Regions from separate parts of the Homo sapiens genome. Here region 2 is linked to region 1. Evidence: fine-mapped expression QTL. A gene starts in region 1. The other region holds a variant in brackets. All regions are shown on one strand. Distances are between the middles of the regions. Region 1 holds the start of ZNF112 (zinc finger protein 112). Region 2 holds the start of LYPD3 (LY6/PLAUR domain containing 3).

What was found. PIP is the estimated chance that this variant, and not a neighbour inherited with it, causes the effect.
Region 2: its variant is fine-mapped to the expression of ZNF112 in atrial appendage (GTEx, PIP 0.90).

What each region holds. Positions count from the first base shown.
Region 1 is chr19:44,351,158-44,360,547 of GRCh38, reverse strand. It overlaps ZNF112 (zinc finger protein 112), which reads left to right and starts at 3,868. Exons shown (of 4, transcript NM_013380.4): 1 at 3,868-3,922. RefSeq lists an enhancer at 3,559-4,059.
Region 2 is chr19:43,458,955-43,468,344 of GRCh38, reverse strand. It overlaps LYPD3 (LY6/PLAUR domain containing 3), which reads left to right and starts at 2,737. Exons shown (of 5, transcript NM_014400.3): 1 at 2,737-2,852; 2 at 3,889-4,020; 3 at 4,576-4,746; 4 at 5,058-5,219; 5 at 6,498-7,558. The coding sequence starts at 2,774. The coding sequence ends at 6,994. RefSeq lists enhancers at 3,985-4,516, 5,069-5,118, 5,149-5,208 and a silencer at 4,759-4,918. The variant C/T (reference allele first, on the strand shown) is at 3,759.

The DNA of each region.
Region 1 (9,390 bases):
GATTGGGGTGGACATCATTATTTTGTTCCCCATCATAGAGGAAATGTTTTCAATATTTCACTATTCCTTTTGATATTTGTTGCCATTTTTGTAGATCTTTACTATTGCTTAGTTGCCTAAATTTTCTTATGATAAATGGGTGATTAATCAAACTTTTTTTTTCTCTGATACCTAGGTTGCCCTTTTATATATCATTGGCAACATTTTGTTTAGCATTTTTGAAAGTATATTTATGACGAGATAGACCTGTCATTTTCTTTTTCTTTCTTTTTTCTTTTCTTTTTTTTTTTCTTGAGATGGAGTCTCCTCTGTCACCCAGGCTGGAGTGCAGTGGCACGATCTCAGCTCACTGCAATCTCCATCTCCCAGGTTCAAGCGATTCTCCCACCTCAGCCTCCCAAATAACTGGGAATACAGGCACGTGCCACCATGCCCGGCTTTTTTTTTGTATTTTTAGTAGAAACGGGGTTTCACTGTGTTAGCCAGAATGGTCTGGATCTCCTGATCTCATGATCTGCTTGCCTTAGCCCCACAAAGTGCTGGGATTACAGGCATGAGCCACCGTGCCTGGCCAGACCTGTCATTTTCCATTCTAATGAAGCCTCTCACAAATTTTGTCAGTGTTATTACAGTGGCCTCATAAAGTTAGTTGGAAAGTGTTTCCTATTTTGTTATTCTCAGGAATAATTTTGAGATGAACATGGTTTCTTCTTTAAATATTTGGTAGAATTCACTGATGACACCAAATTTCAATGCCACAGTCTTTTATCTATGGATTACTTAAAAGTGGTTTGATTAATTTCTAAACAAGTTTGTAATTTAGGGTCCACTGAGAAGATAGAAACCTTATCAATTATTTGAAAAGAAAAATTAGCATATTGTAGAGTTGGTAGCTAGATTTCTGAAAGAGCAGAAAAAGAACTGTAGGCCACATGCAGTGGCTCACGCCTGTAATGCCAGCACTTTGGGAGGCTGAGGCGGGTGGATCACGAGGTCAGGAGTTCAACACCAGCCTGGCCAATGTGGTGAAACCCCATCTCTACTGATAATACAAAAATTAGCTGGGCGTGGTGGCGCATGCCTGTAATCCCAGCTACTCGGGAGGCTGGGGCAGGAGAATTGCTTGAAGCCGAGAGGCAGAGGTTGCAGTGAACCGAGATGGCACCACTGCACTTCAGCCCGGGGAACAGAGCGAGACTCTCAAAAAAAAAAAAAAAAAAAAAAAAAAAAAAGAACTCTAATATATGATGGAAGCAGCAACTGCAGGAAATAGCAACTGCAGCAAGCAGCAACCACCTGAGGTCTGAGGAAACAAAGTGAAGAGACCAGAATTACTAAAACTTAGAAGCTTGAAGGAAGGTCATGCTCACCTGAAACTCAGACCTCTGAGGAGAGGTCAATGTTGGGCTGGTTCTGCTGTCTCTGAGCTCAAAAGCAGGGCCCTGCAGTGTTAGGACTTAGACATCTAAGGATCAGTCTTTGGGAAGTTGTTTAATAATGTTTACAAAGAGCCATGATGAAATAGGTTATTCAAGTGTTAGAAAAACTGAAAATTAGGCAGTTGCTACAAGAAAAAGTACTGCTGGTTGGCAGGCACAGGATATAGTATATCTCCCTGCCCCCACCACCCCTATACGCTTCTGCTAATAATTGCCCAACACAGAACCAGATTGGGGGTGTGGAGGTCGGGAAAGATTGGCTGCAGATTCCCCCATTCCAGCCCCATAAAGCAGAGTGAAGAATGGTGGGTTTGGAGATGAGACAATATTTATTAAATGCACACATGAATCATTTAGTTGTATTTTTATTGATTTCTAGCCAAATTTCATTGTATTCAAAAGCATATTTAGTATTTCAGTATTTTGAAATCCCGTATCATTTTGCTAATTTGTGCAAATCTTATGTGCACTTGAAAAGATGCGAATTTTAGTTTTTGCTAGAATCTTTTGTTCCCCCAGCTTCATATAGGTGTCAAAAGTGCTGCAGAGCTTCTAGGCTTTTCAGATCCTAAACTAGACCATCATCCCCAGGAGAAAAGTAGCCCCAAATGCATGACTCTCCCAAGTGTTTCTGAATTTTGGCCCACCATTTCTCCATTATCTTGTCTTTTGATGCCTTTTGACATTTAAAAAGTTTGCTCATCTTTCCTCTGCCAGATGTTTGTTCCAAATCACTCATTTTATTATTACTGGAAGTGGAAGTACACAAAGTATTATTCTGTCCCTTTTATTTTTAAAATTTCCTTTCATTTTATAAAAAAAAATCCCCTATTATCAGATTGATCCTCTTTAATATGTAAACCGTATGTATTTTCAGAAACATTTCCTTGGAAAGGAGTTGTTAAATAAAGAATCAAATAGTCTCATCTCTTAATAGTGTCTTTTTTTTTTTCTTTTGAGACGGAGTCTCGCTCTGTTGCCCAGGCTGGAGTGCAGTGGTGCGATCTCGGCTCACTGCAAGCTCCGCCTCCCGGGTTCACGCCATTCTCCTGCCTCAGCCTCCCGAGTAGCTGGGACTACAGGTGCCCGCCACCACGCCCGGCTAATTTTTTGTATTTTTTGTAGAGACGGGGTTTCACCATGTTAGCCAGGATGGTCTCGATCTCCTGACCCCGTGAGCATTTTCACAGATTGGTCGTTATGTCTTTTTATTTTCCTCTTCCTTTTCTGGATTGAGTCAACCCATTCACCGTCCTCCCTGAATCATCCTGTCCTCCATAAGACAACTTACAATATTTGCTATATCAAGAGCAGGGTGAAAATAGGTGATAGATTTTTCTCAAAGAAGAAAAAAATTTCGAGGTTTTACAAGAGACTTATCCCTTCCCATAATAATAACATTTTGTCTGTATCAGTACAGCCCTTCTATTTGCCTTATGACTTGCATTTCATCATCAGTAGTTAAAGCAGAGGAAACGTGGGAACCATTTACTGTTTCTGCTTATGGCCTCATCAACGGTTGCATCTGTTTTTTTGTGGATTCTTGGCATCCACGTTCTTGTGGATCTTGCAACAAACACATTATGGTAGGTAGCAGCAGCACTATCAGTTTCAGACGCGTCCACACCAAAATGGAATAAAAAGGTAATCGAGTCAAAGAAAGGTTGAGATCCTGTATTCCTTAAATTCGGTGTCCAGTACAAATCAGCCCAATTTCCTTTAAGTACCTGCATTTTTAGCGCACACATCGCTTCCATTCTGTAATTCTTTTCTTTTTTCTTCCTGTATTGCAAGCTTCTCTGTTCTCTCCTTTATGGGATATTTTCTTGGTAAGTAGGTAGGTAGGTAGGTAAAGTCCGCTTTGGTTGAGTTTATTTGGGTTTGTGTCGCGTTTGAAGAAAAATAAATTCAAACTCTAGGGGGAAGGCAGTAGAACTGGACTAGCAGTATAAAATTGGATGGCTAACCAAAAGAGAATAGTGACTATACAAATACTGACTATCCAAACGAGAAAGAGACGACTTAAGGGAAAGTGCTACCCTGCAAGAAATTCCGGGAATTGTCCAGAAGATCCACAGGGTCAGAGACACACGCGCCAGGAAAGGCGCCTTTCATGCACGGTCCGCTGGGTAAAACAGAGAAATATATATACGAGCTCTCTGTCTTTGGAAGCATTTCGGTTCCAGGAAGGGGGAGTTAAGGAATTCCTTTGGGACCGGCACATGTGAAATATCATCCAGGCTCTCAGCTTGGCACCCGGTACTTGCGTCCTAGGCAGGCAGATAAGTGGAGAGTTTTTCTAGGAATTCTGGGAAATGTAGTTTGGGAGCCCCGTGTAGTCGGGTAACTTCCGCTCTAGGAGGCTGAGGCCGTCTCCCTGATCCCGTCGGGAATTCTGGGAAGCGTAGTCCAGGAGGTCTCGGTAGGCAGAGCCACTTCCGCCCCAGGTACGCTAGGCCGCGGCCTTCGTTCCTCCCAGAAAGGTGAGCGCTCCCCGCCCTGCTTCCTGCTCCTTCCGTCCATACTGATGTTCGTTTTGTTGGGGTCCAGTAGCAACCGGGCAGTAGCTCTAGGGGAGGATAATCCACTTGCGGCGAAGGGCGGGATTTGTGTTATCTTTGAATGAGCCTTCTCCAGTGTGGGGCAGCTGGCGCATCCCCACTTAGCGCCGGGGGTCCAAGATCCTACATCGCAGGGACTGGGGATCTCCTGGGTTCTGTACTTCCCCAGCCCTTTCCCCTGACCATCAACCAGCTCTGCCACTTCCTAGCAGTATAATAACAGGCGAGTATCTTAATCTCTCTGCCTATGTTTCTTTTTCTTTAAAATGGTACTAGTATCTATCTAATGGAGTTCTTTTGAGAGTTAAATAAAAAGACTTGGAACAGAGCCTGACAGGTGGTAGAAGATGGGTCTCTTGTTATTAGCACTTTTTAATTTTCTGAGAAGGACTCAGTTCCCTGAAAGCTTCTGTGAACCCAGGATGGGGTCAGAGCTCCAGCTGCAGAGTATCCCTGGCCCTTTTCTGATCACTGAGAGATTTTTCTTTAGGACAGGATCACTCCTGGCTGTCTGGGTAGTCCATTGTAATTCATGCAGGAGTTCTGATTTCCCCCATCCTCCTTTCCTTCTTTAGCCTTGACTTCTTGAAAAAGGCTGCAGGGAGAAGGAGGGAATGACCCTTTGGCACTTGGCAGCGGAGTCTCACCTGAGTAGTACTTATCATCCTTTCTTTTCAGGGAAGACGATATTTCCATCATTCACTGGCAAATTCTGCTCGAAGATGCGCTGATATTTGTTCAATAAATGCAGAAACGGATGAGGGAGTACTTGGGCATGAGTAATAAAGATAGTATTTAAACATTTAGTGCTGATCATTCTAAGAGTTTGATATGAATTAACATCTTTAATCCTCACAAGAGCCCTTTGAGCCTGGGTTGGGTACCACCATTCCCATTTTAAAGATAAGCAAACAGACATAGAGCATAGGTGGTTTATCTTTAGGTCACCCAGGTGGTAAGAGCCTGAGCTGGGATTTGAATTCAAATAGTTTCCATCCATTGCCTTAGTTCTTGATGTGTTTAGTATCAGCTTCAGAACACATATTTGGATTTTACTAGAGGACCGTGAAAGCAAGGTTAATAAGCTTTGAATTTTTGATTTTTTAAAATTATCTGTAATTTAATTTTATTTGAAATATTTATAGTTCATATTCTGATTATATAAATTATTGCATATTGTAAAAGATTAAGAAAGTATAGAAAGTGTAAAAGAAAAAAATTATGCTAACCACAAGATATAACAGTAACAATATTAATATTTCAATGTTTTCCTCTTCCAGTAGACTTCTTTTTGGATTTTCACCCATGTTTAACCAAATAGGCTTCATAGCTTTTATTTTTCCCTTAAGTTTTTACTATGGAAATTTGTAAGCATAGCCAAATGTAATATGACTAAAATAATTCTGTGGAAGCGTCACCCAGCTTCAACCTTTGTTAACATTTGCCAGTCTTGTATCAACTCCCTGTCCCTTTTTTTTTTGTTTCAGTATTTTAAAGCAAATCTCTAACATCGACTTAGTATAATATCGTTTGATTGATTGTCATAATTGCCAAACGTTGATGATCATAAATTGCTTATATCCAAGACTTTGAAAGGGAAATGCCAGCAGCTACTCTAAGGTTTTCATTCGTTGAAGCTTACAGAATGGTCCTTACTTGAGGAAGCTAGGGGATGCAAGAGAATTGTACCTTGGAGAAGGATGGTGATGAATTTTGTGTTCCAGTATAGAGTTTGCCTTGCCTAAGTCTTATAGCTCTTTGTTTCTTATTTCTCTTTATCTAAATCCATACACTGAAAGTTCTTCTATTTCTGGGACCATGTCATACTTTTCTCCATGTGCCCAGCACATCGTACAAGGTTGTTAAGGGTTTATGGTTAGAGTAGCTACTCAACAGACAGCTGGCATCAAGGATTTGCAGTGTGGAATTGGAATTAGGTATCAAAATAGAATAGAAATAACCCCTGGATATATTCCTTAATCTCACTTAATATTGGTAGGTTATATAATCCACCAACTATTTCAGAGTATTGAAGAGTTGAAGAGCAATGATTGGTTATGTTTTGATAATCTAAAAAAATTCCTAAGAAACAAATTGTTAGAAATGGTAACAACATTTATAGACCATGCCTTATAACTGAGGTTGTGTTTCCAGGTTTTTAAAACAGGTTTTTAAAAAATGTTTTTACAGTGACATTGACTATTTTGTTATTTTTGGTATACAATTCTATTACAACACAGGCATAGTTTGTATAACGACTACCGTAGTCAGAAAAAGAACAGTTCCATCACCCCAAAAACTCCCCTCATGTCTTCCCTCATAATTACCCCTCACCATACCTGTAACCACTGGCAACTACCATAACCACTAAAACGCTATAGTTTTGTCTTTTTGAGAATGTCGTATAAATGAACTGATGCTATATGTTAACATTTGAGACCGGATTCTTTTACTCAGCAAATTGCTCTTGACATTCATCAAAGTTGTTATACGTATCAATACTTCATTTCTGTTTACTTCTGGTTAACAGAAGTGTCCACTTTATGGATGTATCACAGTTTATCTATTCTCTGGTTGATAGACTTTTTCCTCCACTTTTTGGCATTTATGAATAGAGCTGATATAAACATTCATGTACAGTTTTTTTTGTGCTTATTTCTGTAGGGTACGAAGCCAGGAGTGTGGTTACTGGATCATATGGGGAATGTATGTTTAACTTTATAAGATGCCAAACTGTAGTATCTGTACCATTTTGCATTCTCACTAATGATGTAGAAAGTTCCAGTTTATTTACATCTTCATCAGCACTTAGTATTTTCCTTATTTTTTTTTATTTTAGCCATTCTAAGCATTGTGACTTTAATTTACATTTCCCTAATGGCTAATGGTGTTCAGCAGATATTTCTTTTTTTGTTATTGTTTCTTTGCCATCCTTATATCTTCTTTGCGGAAGTGTCTGTATGCATGCTTTGCCCAGTTTTACATTGGGTTATATTTTTCCTATTGTTGATTTTTGAGAGCTATTTATATATTCTGGATATAAGTCCTTTGTTGGATGTGTGATTTGCAAATATTCCTTCTCAGCCTGTAGCTTGTCTTTTCATTCTCTTAATAGTGTCTTTTGCAGAACAAAATTTCTAATTTTAATTACATCTAATTTATCAATGTTATCTTTTTTGGATTGTGCTTTTGATGTCATATCTAAGAAGTCTGCCTAGCCCCAGGTCGTGAAGATTTTCTCTTGTTCTAGAAGTTTTATGGTTTTACACTTAAATCTGTGATCCATTTTAACTTTTTTTATAATATGTGATGGTTAAGTTGGGTTTTATTTCTTTACATATGAATGACCAACCATCCCAACACCACTTGTTTGGGTTTATTTCTGTACCATGTTCTGCTAAATTGATCTATGTGTGTATCTCTTCACCAGTACCAAGATATCATATTTACTGTAGCTTGATAGTAAATCTTAAGACTGGATAGTTTGATTCTTCCAAATTTATTCTTTTTTTCCAAAATTGCTTTTAGCTATTCTGGTTCCTTTGCCTTTCCATATGCATTTTAGAATCAGCTTATTTATATCTACCAAAAATTCAGCTGGTATTTTCATTGACATTATGTAAAATCAGTAGATCCGTCTTTATCACATTGAGTTTTCCAGTTCATTGATATAACATGTCCCTTCATTTAAGTGTTCTTTAATTTCTTGCATTAGTGTTTCATGATTTTCTGCATACAGATCTATACATGTTTTGTTTAGACATATGCCCGAGTATAATATATAATTTATTCTTCTAGAGCTATTTTAAATCATATTGTTTTAAAATTTTGGTTTCCAGTTGTACATTGTTAGTGTATAGAAATACACCTGATTTTTGTGCATTGACCTTGTATTCTCTGACTTTGCTATACTCACTAGAAATTTTTGTTTTTTGGTAGATTCCTTGGGATTTTCCACAGAGACACATGTTGTGTATTAATAGGGTCAGTTTTATTTCTTCCTTTCTAATCTGTATGCTTTTTATTTCTTTTCCTTGCCTCACTACACTGGCTGATTTTCAGTACAGTGTTGAATAGTTATGTCAAGAGTACACATCTCTGCCTTGTTCCTGATCATAGGGGAAAGCATTTTTATAAGTTCCATTATATTTTTAGTCTGCAAAAGTTCTGTCATGAGTGGATGTTGTATTTTGTCAAATGCTTTTTCTGCTTCACTTTTACTGGAGCTGGTGATTGCTGTGCACTTAAAAGTTTGACAAGTACCTGTAGAACAGCCTTATTTAATTTTTTAACATTTATTTTTTAACTTATCTACTTATAGTAGAAATTTATTCTTTTTGGTGTACATTTCTGAGTTTTGACAATTGCATTGTCATGTAGACTTCACCACCACAATCAAGATTCACAACAGTTCCATCGCCCAGAAACATCCCCTTGTGGTACCTTTTTGTAGTCAAACTCTTCCCCAACTCTTAACCCCAGGAAACCCCTGGTTCACTCCCCAACCCCATTGCCTTTTCCATAACATCACGTGAACAAATCAATGCAGTATGTAGAATTTTGAGTGATTTTTTTCATTTTTCTCTTTGATTTCTCACATCAGTATTTTGTGTTTTGTGTCTTTGAAGGAATTAAACCATTTCATCTATCACTTTGAATTCATTAATGTTAATTCATTTATATTTCTAATGCCTGTTAAGTCCGTAGTGATATCCCTTCTTTCATTCTTGATTTTGGTAATTTGTGTCTTTTCTCTTTTGTTCTTCATCAGGAGTTTAATTTTTACTAATCTTTGCAAAGAACCGCCTGTGGGTTGAATTAATTTTGTCCAGGAGCCAGCAAACCTATTTTTTTAGGCCCAGATTGTAAATATTTTAGTTTTTCCAGTTAACTAGAAATATCAGTACTATTATTTAGGTATTTATATAATGAGAGGAAACTTTAATTGACAAAATTTAAGATATAATGATTGAGTACAACTTAATTGAAGTTCAAGGTTGCTATTCCTTGTCATCAAAATTGACTGTAAATGTTCATCTGTTAATGCTGATTTGTAATGAGATTTTATGTATTTTATCTTTGAAAAGAAATTTTTTAAACAAATAGGTCCTATGAAATACTGATACTAATCCATAAGCAAATGATTTTAATTGTGAATATCAATGAGTTGAAAGATGTGGTAAACTGAATAGTGGCTCCCTAAAGATGTCCATATCCTAATTCCCAGAGCTTATGAATGTTACTTCACATGGTATGAGATATTTACTGGTGTGATTAAACTTAGGGAGTTTAAGATGTGTAGATTATCCTGGATTATCTGGTTGGGCCCAGTGTAATTACAAGGATTCTTATAAGAGAAAAGCAGAAGGATCAAAATTAGAAGAAAGTGA
Region 2 (9,390 bases), 890 kb after region 1:
CAGCTAATTTTTTGTATTTTTAGTAGAGACGGAGTTTCACCACATTGGCCAGTCTGGTCTCGAACTCTTGAGCTCAGGTGATCCACCCCCTTGGCCTCCCAAAGTGCTGGGATTACAGGTGTGAGCACCTGGCCAGAAAGGATTGATTTTAAGATTTGGGCTTGTGTGTGGTGGTCTTGGGAATGGTGCAAGGAAGTGGGACCTCGTTCTAGTTTGGATACTGTTAAACAGAGGAGGAGTAATGCTGTGGTTGGGCATTTGCATAAATCTCATTTATGAGGCAGGAGAAATAAAGTGAGGTTAAAGTTGTAACTTTAATATAATATAAGCAGTCATTTATATTAGCCAGGATATGGGGATGCTTAGTCATTCTGCGGTTTGCACAATGACCTTGTTTGTTTCTGTGTTCAGACATGGCTATGGATTGGTCTTGATTTTGTTTTTCTTTGTTTTTTGTTTTTTTGAGACAGGGTCTCACTCTGGTTGCCCAAGCTGGAGTGCAGTGTCGCAATCTCAGCTCACTGCAGCCTCAACCTCCCAGGCTCGGGTGATTCTCCCAGCTCAGCCTCTCAAGTAGCTGGGATTATAGGTGCACACCCCCACGCCCAGCTAATTTTTTGTATTTTCAGTAGAGACGAGGTTTCGCTGTGTTGCCCAGGCTATTGATTTGTTTCTTGATCCTTTACTGTCGCAGTGTGGCCTTGTCCAGGTTGGTGCTCTGTGAAATTATCTAGGCGCAGTTGAACTCCATGGCCTCACTATGTGTGTCAGGCCAACTCCCAGCTGTTAGGGGCTGTTTTTCTCTTTCTTCCATGGAAAACTACACGGCCCCCTGTTGGTTTCCTGGCCTTCTCTCTCACCCCTTCTAGAGTCATTTTCCTTTTTTACACAGAGTCCACAGTGACATTCTTTACCTTGTTTTTATTGAAGAATAACATACGTCCAGTGACAGGCCTGAGTCAGTGATTCTCAACGTATCTGTACACACATGCAGCTGTCACCTAGATGAAGATCGTGGGGGCTCCTCCCTGTTGCTCCTTCTGGGGCCATGCCCTCCCAAAGGTAACATGTGTTCTGATTTCTATCACCACTGGTTAGTTTTGTCTGTTCTGAAACTTCATATATATTCAGTTACACAGTATGTTTTGTTTGTTTGTTTAAGGCTTTCTAAACTCAACACCAAGTTTTTTCTTTTTTTAAAATAAAATGAGATGGGATCTCACTATGTTGCACAGCCTGGTCTCAAAACCCCTGGGTTCAAGTGATCCTCCCACCTTGGTGTCTCAAAGTGCTGGGATTACAGGTGTGAGCCACTGTGCCTGGCCCCAACACAAAGTTTTTGAGATATGTTGCTGCATATATCAGGTGTTGGATCTTTTCTATTGCTGTGTAGTATTCCATTGGCCGAACCAACCACTCTCTTTTGCCATTCACTTCTTTTTCTTTTTCCTTTTTTAAAATCATATATCCTACTCTCAGATCCATTTACTTTTTTTTAATTTTTAAATTTTTAAATTTTTTTTTTTGAGACAGGGTCTCACTCTGTTGCCCAGGCTGGAGTGCAGTGGCGTGATCTCAGCTCACTGCAACCTCCACCTCCTGGGCTCAAGTGATTCTCCTGCCCTACCCTTCCGAGTAGCTGGGACAGCAGGTGCACGCCACTGCACCTGGCTAATTTTTTTAAATTTATTATTTTTTTTTAATAGAGATGAGGTTTCGCCATGTTGCCCAGGCTGGTCTCAAACTCCTGATCTCAAGTGATCCACCCAGCTCGGCCTCCCAAATTGCTGGGATTACAGGCATGAGCCACCGCGCCCGGCCTCCATTTACTTCTTGATGGCTAGCTGCACTATTTCTCAGGTTGATCATATTAGGAAGCAAATCTATTATGTCCTCCAGCTCATTTAGACCCTCTTAAAGGTTCTCTACTATTCTCAAAATTAATCCAAATCTCTTGTCGGGGCCTCTGATGCCCTGAGTGTCTCGGCCTCTGCCTGACTCTTTCATCTCAGTTCCTGCCCTTCTCTCATGGACTTCTGAGCTCAGGAGCACTGCTCTCCTTTCCATGTTTGAATGGTCCATCCTACCTCCTACCTCCAGGTGCTCCCACGTGCTGTTCCCTCTGCTTGTAAAGGGCTGTGTCCCTCTCTTGACCTGCTCTAGCTGGCTACATCCTGCATGCCCTTGAGGTTGCATCTCAGATAACCTCAAGGAAGCCCTCACCGACCAGCCCCCACTTCTAGACTGCACATCTCCTTGTATCACTACACTTTTTCCTTCAGTGTCTTAGTCTCTTTGGTAAACACCAATTTGTACGATTATTTGATTAGCATCTGTCTCCCCCATCAGACTGTGAGCTCTGCCAGGACAGGCACTGGTTCTGTCTTCATCTCCAGCATTACCTAGACCAAAGCCGGGCACACTGTAGATGCTCATTTAACAGTTACCGAACACTGAATGTCGAGTAGCCCCAGCCTGTCTTTAAGCCCCACTACTCTCCCACTCCAAACACACACAGACTTTCTCCCGCGAGCTGTCAGGGAACCTCAGCTCCCACCCTTTCCCTCCTTGGCAACTTCACAGGGCAGGGACCGCTCTCCCTTGGATGACGCGCCTAGGGGCGGGGCCCCGCCCCACAGCCGACGCTGAGTTGGCCCGGTTGGGCAAGGCTGGGGTTGCCTGGGGCGAGGTTACTCATCCTGGGCTCAGGTAAGAGGGCCCGAGCTCGGAGGCGGCACATCCAGGGGGGACGCCAAGGGAGCAGGACGGAGCCATGGACCCCGCCAGGAAAGCAGGTGCCCAGGCCATGATCTGGACTGCAGGCTGGCTGCTGCTGCTGCTGCTTCGCGGAGGTGGGTCTGCTGCCCGGAGAGGTGGAGGGGGTAGAGTGGGGGCTCTTAGGGAGGAGGCTCCTCTGGCCCCGTACAGAGAAGGCTGTGGGAAGGATCCCCACATAAGCAGAGGGCACTGTGGGCAAAGTTCCCCCATCCTAAGCAAGGGAGGCAGAGGGAAGGGTCCTCCACCATGGGCCGTAGGAAGGGTTCCCCACCACGGACAAGGGGAGCTGTGGGCAAAATTTTCCTATCCTGAAGCTGCAGAAAGAAGTCCCCTGTTCCTAGGCCGGGCGCGGTGGTTCATGCCTGTAATCTCAGCACTTTGGGAGGCCGAGGCAGGCGGATCATGAGGTCAAACGATCGAGACCAGCCTGGCCAACATGGTGAAACCCTGTCTCTACTAAAAATACAAAAATTAGCTGGGCGCGGTAGCGCGAGCCTGTAGTCCCAGCTACTCGGGAGGCTGAGGCAGGAGAATCGTTTGAATCCAGGAGGGGAGGTTGCAGTGAGCCGAGATTGCGCCACTGCACTCCAGCCTGGCGACAGAGCGAGACTCCGTCTCAAAAAAAAAAAAAAGAAAAAAAGAAAAAAAGAAAAAAGTGTTCCCTGTCCTGGGCAGAGAAGCTGTGGGTAGTGTTCTCTCATTTGAGCAGAAGGGGGCTGTGGGAAGGGATCCCTCACTGAGCACAGTCTACTGTGGGAAAAGTTCTCCCACACACTGTGGGAAAAGTTCTCTCATTCTGAGCAGAAAACCGTGAGGAGGTATCCTTCCTACCCCGGGATGAGGGGCTTCATGGCGGGGATCGCCTACAGTGGGCATACAGGGCTGTCGGAAGGATGTGCCCACAGTTGGCATAGTGGGTGTGAAGGAAAAGGGTCCAGTGATTCCCGTGCTTCCAGATTTGTGGAAAGCTTTTCCCTACT[C/T]CTGCCCTGGAAAAGTGTGTGCAATAAGACTGTCTAATCCCGGGACAGAGGGCATGGGAAGGACTATTTCTCCTTGGGGGTGGACGCTTTAGCAAGGAGGGCTCAGGTCTATTCGGCTCCGCTCCCCCAGGAGCGCAGGCCCTGGAGTGCTACAGCTGCGTGCAGAAAGCAGATGACGGATGCTCCCCGAACAAGATGAAGACAGTGAAGTGCGCGCCGGGCGTGGACGTCTGCACCGAGGCCGTGGGGGCGGTGGAGACCAGTGAGTGGGGACCCCCGGGCCACGCACACCACTGCAGGCTCCTCCGGCCCAGCCCCGCCTCCTTATAGTCCTTTCTGGATCTGGCCACGCCCCTTTAACGCGGCCCCACCCCTCCCTTTCAGCCTGGCCGGGACCCTACGACACAGCCTTGCAGGCCAGGCCTTCTCTATTAACAATTACAAGCGCGAGGAGCAGAGAGTTGAGAACTGGGTGGGGCGGACGGGGAGAGCTCGGGTTTGGAACGAGGTCACGTCCTATGCACTTTTTCTGCTCCACCAATGAGACCTCCCCATCCCTGCCTGTCAACCAGGCTGTCTCCTCCGACTCAGCTCTTTGAGGTTCCGCCCCCGTTCCGTGACCCCGCTCCTCCCTGCTTCGGTCGTTCTTTCCGCTCTGAGCGGCTCTTTGGGGGCGTCCATCCGCCAATTCCTGCCTGTCGGTCCTGTGGTGTTGGCCTATTTGAGGCCCCGCCCCTCCCAGACCCTACCCAACTCTGGGCCACGCCCCATCTGAGACCACGCCCACAGCTAATCCCGCCCTTGTCCCTCTCCCTAGTCCACGGACAATTCTCGCTGGCAGTGCGGGGTTGCGGTTCGGGACTCCCCGGCAAGAATGACCGCGGCCTGGATCTTCACGGGCTTCTGGCGTTCATCCAGCTGCAGCAATGCGCTCAGGATCGCTGCAACGCCAAGCTCAACCTCACCTCGCGGGCGCTCGACCCGGCAGGTCCGTGGGGGCCGGGCCGTAGCTGCGGGGGCGGAGCCACATTCGGGCCTGCCAAGATAGAGGTGGAGCCGTGGCAGAGGCGGGAGTACTCGACCTGGGCTGGGGGTGGGGTCACACTCTGGGGCGGGGCCAAGAGGCAGCAGGAGGGACTTTCTGGCTGTAGGCGCCGCGAGGTTGCGCGCTGGGGCGGGGCTACTAGTAGGCGGGGTCATCGATAGTGCCGGGGCCAGGCCTTAGGGGCGGGGCTAGAGGACGAGCTGCGGTTCCCGAACCCTTTCGACACCTTTTCTTCCTCTCGGCTCCCCTCGCAGGTAATGAGAGTGCATACCCGCCCAACGGCGTGGAGTGCTACAGCTGTGTGGGCCTGAGCCGGGAGGCGTGCCAGGGTACATCGCCGCCGGTCGTGAGCTGCTACAACGCCAGCGATCATGTCTACAAGGGCTGCTTCGACGGCAACGTCACCTTGACGGCAGGTGAGGGAGCCCCGGAGCACGGGACCTACGGGAGTTGTGGTAGCCCTTCTGAAGCACCCTGGGCGGTAGGGAGCCCTTTACCCAAAGCGTTTCCTTAACCTGCGACGCATTCTGGGAATCGTGGGGCCTAGGTGCTTGTATCGTAGGGCATCATGGAAAATGCAGTCCCTTCCCCCAACATATTAATAGTGTGGGGATAGTGATGCTTTGTCCCAGAGTGTTTTGGAGGGAAATGCATTTCCATAGAGGGCTGCCAGGTACTTAAGAGGTATTTAAGCCTCTAAGCTTCTGCCCAGGCACTGCGGGGAATCTCTAGTTCTTAGCCCTTAAAACTCAAGGGGTCCCCCGCCTGTCCCAGACTATTGAGAAATGTAACCATGGAAAATGAAGTTCTTCAAATCCCATCCCCTGCCAGTTATGCTATGGAAGATGTAGTTCTTTTTTATTTTATTATTACTATTTTTTTTTAAAGACAGCATCTTGCTCTATCGCCTAGCCTGGAGTGTAGTGGCGCAATCATAGCTCACTGCAGCCTCTACCTCTTGGGCTCAAGCAGTCCTCCCGCCTCAGCCTCCCAAGTAGCTGGGACTACAGGGTGCACCGCCACGACTGGTTCCTTTTATTTTTGGTAACAGTGGGGTCTTGCCATGTTACCCAGGCTGGTATTGAACTCTTGGGCTAAGAGATCCCCCTGCCTAGGTCTCCCAGAGTGCTGGGATTACAGCCGTGAACCACTGAGCCTGGTGTGGAGATGTAACTCTGACTCTAAGAGTAAATTCTGATGGGGAGGTAAAAGCCAGGGTGAAGGCTAAGGGGATAATGGTGAGAGGGTTGTAGAGGAAGTTTGTTCTGCACTGTGGTCTTGTGAGAGGTCTTGTATCTCAGTCTAAGCCTTTGTTTTAAACCCTACTTTTGGTTCAGCCTACACACATTTCCATTCAAAGCACAATGGAAAATGTTAATCCACCATGTGCCAAAGACAGTGAGTCTGTCTGTTTCTCATAGTAGGACCTGAGTTGAGATTTTGGGATTAATGGATGCAGAGACTTTCTGTCTCATTTTGGGGGTTCTCTGTTCTTTTTTTTTTTTGCAAGACAGAGTCTCACTCTGTTGCCCAGTGATCCACCTGCCTCGGCTTCCCAAAGTGCTGGGATTACAGGCGTGAGCCACCACGCCCGGTCAGGTTCTCTGTTCTTGTCTGATGCCTCTAAGTTTTGTTCTGGCCATGTCAACCTCTCTCCCTCCAGCCACTGACCTATCTGTGTCTCCTTCCTGCAGCTAATGTGACTGTGTCCTTGCCTGTCCGGGGCTGTGTCCAGGATGAATTCTGCACTCGGGATGGAGTAACAGGCCCAGGGTTCACGCTCAGTGGCTCCTGTTGCCAGGGGTCCCGCTGTAACTCTGACCTCCGCAACAAGACCTACTTCTCCCCTCGAATCCCACCCCTTGTCCGGCTGCCCCCTCCAGAGCCCACGACTGTGGCCTCAACCACATCTGTCACCACTTCTACCTCGGCCCCAGTGAGACCCACATCCACCACCAAACCCATGCCAGCGCCAACCAGTCAGACTCCGAGACAGGGAGTAGAACACGAGGCCTCCCGGGATGAGGAGCCCAGGTTGACTGGAGGCGCCGCTGGCCACCAGGACCGCAGCAATTCAGGGCAGTATCCTGCAAAAGGGGGGCCCCAGCAGCCCCATAATAAAGGCTGTGTGGCTCCCACAGCTGGATTGGCAGCCCTTCTGTTGGCCGTGGCTGCTGGTGTCCTACTGTGAGCTTCTCCACCTGGAAATTTCCCTCTCACCTACTTCTCTGGCCCTGGGTACCCCTCTTCTCATCACTTCCTGTTCCCACCACTGGACTGGGCTGGCCCAGCCCCTGTTTTTCCAACATTCCCCAGTATCCCCAGCTTCTGCTGCGCTGGTTTGCGGCTTTGGGAAATAAAATACCGTTGTATATATTCTGCCAGGGGTGTTCTAGCTTTTTGAGGACAGCTCCTGTATCCTTCTCATCCTTGTCTCTCCGCTTGTCCTCTTGTGATGTTAGGACAGAGTGAGAGAAGTCAGCTGTCACGGGGAAGGTGAGAGAGAGGATGCTAAGCTTCCTACTCACTTTCTCCTAGCCAGCCTGGACTTTGGAGCGTGGGGTGGGTGGGACAATGGCTCCCCACTCTAAGCACTGCCTCCCCTACTCCCCGCATCTTTGGGGAATCGGTTCCCCATATGTCTTCCTTACTAGACTGTGAGCTCCTCGAGGGCAGGGACCGTGCCTTATGTCTGTGTGTGATCAGTTTCTGGCACATAAATGCCTCAATAAAGATTTAATTACTTTGTATAGTGCTTTAAAGGAGTCACTTCCACCTTGTTTCTCGCAATAACCGCTCTAGCTGAGCTAGGGTGGGCATCATAAAGCCTTTAACGGGAGAGATATGGGACCTAGAGCCGCAGTCCTGGGGGAAGTCACGGTTGAACTTTAATCTCCTGGGTCTATCCTGCATGTGGGTGGTCCCACTGGTGAGGGGGAGACCGGGCGAAACCATTAAGCAGCATGGAGGGGCGAATGGGGCTTTTAGCAATGCCAGGGAATAGAGAGCTTTGTCTAATGAGTTTATGTACCCTCCCTAGGCTCCACCCGCCTTGTCATCCAGCCAGCCGTCTGCATTGTTTTAGAGACGGGGTCTCTGTTCACCCAAACTGGACTGCAGTGGCCCAATCATAGCTCACTGCAACCTCTAACTCCTGCCTCAGGCTCCCAAGTAGCTGGGACTACAGGCTTATCCCATCATACTTGGCTAATTTTATTTTTTGTAGAGATGAGGTCTTGCTATGATGCCCAGTCCTCCTGCCTTGGACTCCCAAAGTGTTGGGATTACAGGCAGGAGCCACTGCACCCGGCTTCATCTGGTTTACTAAGAGTCATTAAGCCTGGGTGCAGTGGCTCATGCCTGTAATGCCAGCACTTTGGGAGGCAGAGGCAGCTGGATCACCTGAGGTCTGGAGTCCGAGACCAGCCTGACCAACATGGAGAAACCCTGTCTCTACTAAAAATACAAAATTAGCTGGGCATGGTGGCACATGCCTGTAATCCCAGCTACTCGGGAGGCTGAGGCGGGAGAATCGCTTGAACCCAAGAGGTGGAGGTTGCGGTGAGCCGAGATCACGCCACTGCACTCCAGCGTGGGCAAAGAGTGAAACTCCGTCTCAAAAAAAAAAGTCATTAACTGGGCTTACCTACTGTGTCCCACTTGTCTGTAGGACCCGGGGGTGCTGCTGTTGGTCTTTGCTTGATGTTGGGGACCTGGGGCTTGAGCCCCACCTCCATCTCCTTCCAATCAGATGAAGGCCTGGCCCTAGAGGCACTGGAGGGGAAAAGCCTGGTTTGGGAATGAGAGAGTTCCTGGTAGGCTTTGCGACTGCTTGATGGGAGGAGGATCAGATGTGGGGAATAGTGAGATCATAACAGTATATTGCCAATATTGCTATTGATAGCCAATATTACTATTGATAATGGGGAGTAGTGTGAGGTAACAACAAAACAATAGCAAATAAGGAGAATAGCAACAAAATAGAACATCAATAAGAGTATGAGCTCTTATTCTGAAACACATATATTGCAATACATGTATAGAGGGAAACATCAGTGATGGTAAATGTAGTGTTGGGAGTATTAATGATTTTTCTTTTTTTTTTTTTTTGAAATGGAGTTTTGCTCTTGTTACCCAGGCTGGAGTGCAATGGCACAATCTCAGCTCGCCACAACCTCCCCTCCCAGGTTCAAGCGATTCTCCTGCCTCAGCCTCCCGAGTAGCTGGGATTACAGGCATGTGCCACCATGCTTGGCTAATTTTATATTTTTAGTAGAGATGGGGTTTCTCCATGTTGGTCAGGCTGGTCTCAAACTCCTGACCTCAGGTGATCCACCCACCTTGGCCTCCCAAAGTGCTGGGATTACAGGCGTGAGTCACCATGCCCGGCAGAGATTTTTAAATTTTAATTTAACTTTTATTTGTATTGTAGAGATTGGCGTCTCACTATGTTACCCAGGCTGGTCTCGAACTCCTGGGCTCAGATGATCCTCCTGCCTCTGTCTCTCAAGTGCTGGGATTACAGATGTGAGGCACCGTGCCCAGCTGTGTTAGTGATTAAAGACAGTCTTACTAGATGCCAAGTCT